Regions from separate parts of the Homo sapiens genome. Here region 1 is linked to region 2. Evidence: fine-mapped QTL for protein levels in blood plasma. A gene starts in region 2. The other region holds a variant in brackets. All regions are shown on one strand. Distances are between the middles of the regions. Region 1 overlaps GCNT1 (glucosaminyl (N-acetyl) transferase 1). Region 2 holds the start of GCNT1 (glucosaminyl (N-acetyl) transferase 1).

The links. PIP is the posterior inclusion probability: the model's chance that the variant is causal. Protein levels are from antibody-based Olink assays in UK Biobank. Linkage for the fine-mapping came from a reference panel and not from the study's own genotypes, which makes the PIPs less certain.
Region 1: its variant is fine-mapped to the plasma level of the GCNT1 protein (UK Biobank, PIP above 0.99). The variant lies in the coding sequence of GCNT1. If it changes the protein, the assay may bind it differently, which can mimic a change of level.

Annotation. Positions count from the first base shown.
Region 1 is chr9:76,501,056-76,503,966 of GRCh38, reverse strand. GCNT1 (glucosaminyl (N-acetyl) transferase 1) reads right to left here. Exons shown (of 4, transcript NM_001490.5): 3 at 2,906-2,911; 4 at 1-1,728. The coding sequence starts at 1,585. The coding sequence ends at 299. Among named protein-coding and RNA genes, the nearest start is that of GCNT1, 43 kb to the right of the region's middle. The variant G/C (reference allele first, on the strand shown) is at 1,113.
Region 2 is chr9:76,457,549-76,460,459 of GRCh38, reverse strand. It overlaps GCNT1 (glucosaminyl (N-acetyl) transferase 1), which reads right to left and starts at 1,278. Exons shown (of 4, transcript NM_001490.5): 1 at 1,155-1,278; 2 at 283-400. RefSeq lists an enhancer at 234-343 and a silencer at 954-1,493.

The DNA of each region.
Region 1 (2,911 bases), 44 kb before region 2:
TCGGCCTCTTCCCCAGCCACCCTGGTCCCCTCTTTCCACAATGCCTTGCTACCTGCTCTGGCCTCAAGGCTACCTTTACTCCTCCCACTATTAACTCTAGATGAACATTTAATGCTATCACCTTTCTAGCTAACTGTGCTCTGCAGAAACCATGCAGCTTCTCTGACAAGAAGATCTACTAGAGTCCCTGCCCCAAAGAGGACTTCATACCATCTTCCCGATGCTGACAAGGAAGGGGAAACAGATAAGGGTACGTTTTGTGTATCCTTCTTCTTGTTCATAAAATTGCCCGTAATGGTCAGTGTTTTAATGTCTCCAAAGCTTTGTGTCTCAAATGCTCATCCAAACACTGGATGGCAAAGAGGTCAACATCCACGTCAAACTTATTGGCAAACAAGTGGTGTTTGCGCAGCATCCAGTTCAAGTCACCAGCTCCGAAAATGCACACTGAGCGCACATGGACTCCATCGCAGGGCGGGTAGGGAGCACCCTTGGAAACATCACCCTCAAAGTACTGCCACTTGACAAACCTGGCAACTGCTTGCATGTCAGACAGATCATACTTATGGCTGGCAGGGAGTGAGCCCGGGACTTCAGGAATCCTTTGGATGGTGGCCCAGAGATACTCATCAGGGCTGTATGTGTCTTGTGCCCACTCCATCAACTTTTGGATTTTTTCATTCTGTAGTACATACCCCACATACTCCCTACTGACCACGAAGTAGGCACTGCCAGAAAAGAGAGGTGTTTCGAGTGGAGGAAGCATTTTGACAGTCCCTGTGTTTGTCAGCTTTCCATTAACGACCTCATACCGCTTCTTCCACCTTTCTTCTTTATGGGATGGCATCCTCTCCGTTTCCAGGTTGTTTTCTCCCATTAACAACTTGAGCTTCCTGACAATTTCTAGGTTGGTTTTAATGGGAAAATCCATACCACAAAGATTTATCAAGTACTTCCAGTTTGCACTCATTGCATAGAGATCCTTCATGCAGTTGAGGTCAGCCTGAACCCGGCTCCACGATGCATAAACCACACTCTCCAATCGGCTGGCCACAAAGACATTACTAAAACAGGAAGCGATGCCCATCACTGCAGCTAAATAGGAATCCTCG[G/C]ATTTTGTGTCCACATGAATGCAATAGAAATTCTGAGGCATATAGATGGCCCTCAGCAGCCTGTCAAGCATTTCAATCTTGTGATGAACCACTATAGAATATGCTATTGGAAACTCCGCCTCTTCTTTACTAAGGGGTTCTACAATATATTTGCGTCTCTTGATGAAAGAAGAACAGTCACTGGTCATGTTTATATAGTCGTCAGGTGTCCACCGAGGGCGCTTTTTAAATTTCACTGTTAGGATCTCAAGCTTTACCTTTTGGATTTCATTTACATCACCCTGTAAAACTTTGGTGCAATTAATATCACTACTAGGATTCTCCCCAGCAAGCTCCAAGTGTCTGACACTTACAAATTCAGGCTTTTGATGAATCCTTAAAACGGAGAAGGTGATTAGGGATAAAACAAGAACCATAAAGTAGTATTTGGTGGGATAAGAAAAAAGTCTCCTTCGCAGCAACGTCCTCAGCATTTCAAACAATAATCAGGGATTTCCTTTGTGAAGGGCAGTCTTCTATGCTCCAAGCACCAATGATTTTCCCTCCGTCGTGGCCTTGAAGGTTGTCAGTTTGCATTTATCAGAGCTGCAACGGCATCTTGAAATGAAGAGCAGCACTGAAATAAAAGAAGCAATTATAAATATAAATAAATATATATATATATATATATATATACAGAGAGAGAGAGAGAGAGAGAGTTTTTCACAATAAATCTTCTCAGGCTCAAAAAACTGTCCTCTTTGCTATGAGGTTAGGTTTAAAACAAAAACAAAGTGGCTGAATCAGAGGATAAATTGTAGTAGTACAGGAAGCCCACAGTCTCTAGTATTTATACCACAGATTGAAAAAGAAAACAAAAGAAAAAACAAACCCCAAATCCCAGTACATGGATGCACTAGAATATCTAACAACAAGCATTTTACCTCTTTGGTATGTTGAGGTGCAAAACCATAGTTGGACGCCTAGGCAATAATGATTGAACAGTCTATAGTTGATGAGTTTCTGACACTGTGCCAGAATTACCACCCCTTGTTCTTGAAATCGTTAGTAATTTAAGTTCCTCCTGACATGTTTTAATGTCCATTAGCTGGTGTCAGCAGCCCTAAAAGAGATCAGATCCATTCTGCTTTTTGCTGATTTAGGATTTGGGGCATACTTAGGGAGAAGTTTGGAAATGGTTGTGACTTCTAAGAATCTTTGAAGGAAGGGCAAGTCAACAGAATTTTCAAATTGGATTGAAAAGGCTCAGATGAAACAAAGCCCCGTTTGGGACTGTGTTGGGTTAGTCCCACAATGAGTTTAGTTCCATGCCAGAAACTACAAGAAAACAAAGTATTCATAATCCAAAAGAGAGATACAGCTTGCGTTTTCTGCATTAGTTATAACAGACTGTAATAACTAAGTCTTGCAGAAAACAATAGTGTATACAAATTGTAATTTATGACAGACCTTCATCTATATTCAAATTCCAGGAACACAACCCACTTTTACTATATGAAATGCTTACAAACATTAAATAGCTTTGTTTTCAAAAATCAATTTTATAACTTGGCAATTGGTTCTACAGCTGATAAGCGCTGCTGTTCTAAAAAAAGAAAGTCAAGTACTACCAATTTGACCGTTATAAATCTGTTCATAACAAGATTTCTAGAGATTTGACACGAGTTTTTAATGCCAGAAACTTAACTATTTCATTAGGAAATGAGTTGTGAATAGTAATAATACAAATAAAAATGAATAACTGACCATCATTAATATAAAATAATGTTAAGAAAAGTATTTAGACTTTTTACCATTTA
Region 2 (2,911 bases):
ACAGCTCTGGAAGGGGGGCAGAATGCCAGACGAAGAGACAACTTCCAGACCACGTCTCTCACCTCCCACCCATCAAATTCAGCCCACAAAAAGCTGTGGCCGCATTCTCATCTCAAGGCACCACGGCTTTCTTTGAACACCATATATCTTCCCAATTGGCCTCTTGCCCCATTATGTGTAAAAAACCGACTCTCTTTTCTGCAGAAAGAAATAACAAGGCAAAGGGTGTACAGGGCAACGTTTATATGCATCTACAGCATGCCAGGTGCCTACAGAACCTACCTCGGCCTAGGCGGTCCGTGCCCTAGCCGGGATCTGCAGGCGCCCTCATCCACGCTGGGAGACGGGAAGAGGAGAGGGAGGCGTGACAGGCGAGGGTGCCTGTGCTGCGCAGAAAGCGCTGCCAGGAGAAAAGAAGCAGTGAGCAAGGGCTTCTTCCATTTCAAAAACCTAATAACCAAAACTTGGAGGAATCTGCCTGAGATACTTAAAAAAAAGAGGAAAGAGAAACCTAGGAGGGGGTAAAATGCTTTTAAGACGAATCACTTGTTTTCGTAATAGACCCTGCGCGCGAGTTTCCTAGACTGCCGCGAGAAGAAGGAAAGCGAGGGAGCAGGAAAGGAGAGGCTTCGGAGCCCCTAAACTAACGTCTCTTTTCTTATTAGTAATAGTTTGCTCCAGGGTGAGTCATTTATTATCCTAGCGTTGGCCTCTTTATCAGTAAAGTAGGGGTGAAAATGCATCTTAGCCGGGCTGGCGTTAGGATTCAATGAAGTTAAATGAAGTTAAGCCCCTGGCACCCATGGGATGGCAGCGAGTCTGTTCGTTCCCTGCCTATCCACGCCCGCAGCCAACCCCTCCGACATCTAAGCTACACGGACCAGGGGCAAGAGGCCAGAAAGTGACTTTCAGGGGACACGGGGCACCGGCGTCCCAGCCCCACTGAGCGGACGGAAAATGAAGGTGGAAGGAAGAGGCGCCGCTCCATTCCGGTCCCGGGCGCACCCCGGTTCTGCTTCCTCCTCCGCGGGGGAGCCCAGCCCGCCCGGGGCCACGGGGCACTGGCTGAGAGCCGGCTCCCTCCCACCCATCCTTCTCAGCCTTCCCCCACCGCCGGGCGGCCGAGCAGGGGAACACGAGGGAGAGCCGGTTACCTGGAGTGGGCGTCTGACCCCGGAGTCTCAGGAGGATGCCCAGCCGCTCCTGCTCCACCAAGCTCCCGCCCCGCGCCGCGCTCTAGGCGCTCCGGAGCTGCGCCTGCAGCCCTCACACCAGCGTGGCCCGCCCCGGGGCCGCCCCCAGAGGCCCCGCCTTTCTAGGCCCCGCCCACCACGTCCCCGCCTCGCCCACCTGCGCGAGCTCGGGGCTGGGGACTTGCTGCGGACTCGCGGTTCCCGCCTACAGGCGAGGGCGCCCTCTGGGCACTGACGTGGTCTGGGAGTAGCGCTGCGATCCTAGTGCTTCCTCGCTCCTCTTCCTCACTGTGCTCTGATTCTTAAGAGGTGTGTGAGCGGCGTCTTTTTAAACATTTTATGCCTCCCTTCCTCGAAAGCAGGAAACTCGAGAAATGCTGCCTTTTCTGATTTTAAACATGAAAATATGTTACAGAACAACAATAAAATTAAATTCCAAGGTTCTCGATATGTAAAGTTTAGAGATAACCATGTAGGTGTTTTTTTCTCTCCCCTAACGAACCTTGCTTCCTAAATTTAGCATTTAAGAACTCATTACATTCATGTGTATTTCCACATAAAAATTAAGATCAAATTAAACTGTGGAACAATCCACAGTGCTGTGGAAAGTAGGAAAAAACCTTCCCCGCCCTTATAGCACAGATCTTTGTGTCAGTTATAAAAGTTGACACAGTTCTCTTTGTAACAAGGGGAATATTGTGTCTGTGTCTTCTTTCGTTGGATTTTTAGCTCCTAGAAAACAGAACGAGGTCTTATTTGTTTCCATGTTGTTTAAAAAAAATTCTGGCCGGGCGCGGTGGCTCACGCCTGTAATCCCAGCACTTTGGGAGGCCGAGGCGGGCGGATCACCAGGTCAGGAGATCGAGACCATCCTGGCTAACATGGTGAAACCGCGTCTCTACTAAATATACAAAAAATTAGCCAGGCGTGGTGGCGGGCGCCTGTAGTCCCAGCTACTCGGGAGGCTGAGTCAGGAGAATGGCGTGAACCCGGGAGGCGGAGCTTGCAGTGAGCCGAGATCGTGTCACTGCACTCCAGCCTGGGCAACAGAGCGAGACTCCATCTCAAAAAAAAAAAAAAAAAAAAAAAAATCCAACTCAGAGGCCATTAGACTGTGATATGTTTGACACTTGCCTGATTTGTCAACAAAAATTAACATAAGATGATGGTATAGAGGAAGAAAGACTTCCCCTCTACTCTCTGAGGCTTGGATAACTAAGTCTATGAAATAAATTGACTGCAGGTAGATTAACAAGAGAAAAAGTACACAGATTTCGTGTAGGGGGTATCACAGAAAAGAAAAACTAATATTCCCTCTGCCTCCCCCAACAAAAACTGAGATTTTAGGAGCTTGTGTATCCTCTTCATTGGGGAGGGACAATTTAGGGGAGAGGAAATGATTTTGGGAAAAACTCCTGAACTCCTTCAATGGCTAGCTTTGTTTAATATCTCATGAAATTTTTCATGAGCAATTCAAGCATAATTGTTAAGAGCAAGTAGATTAGGTAAATGTAAATGGAATAAAAGTTTATAAACTTTTAAAAATAATTTGTTTTATAAAATTTGTCTACTTAAAAATAGTTTTAAAAATCTTTTTTGGTGACTTGAAATTTCGAACATATTAAATTAAGTAATAGATATTCATTAAATGTCTGAGTCATTTGTAAGTTAAAATACTGACATGTTAATTGCTAAACATAAGTTTAAAGTATAGCCGG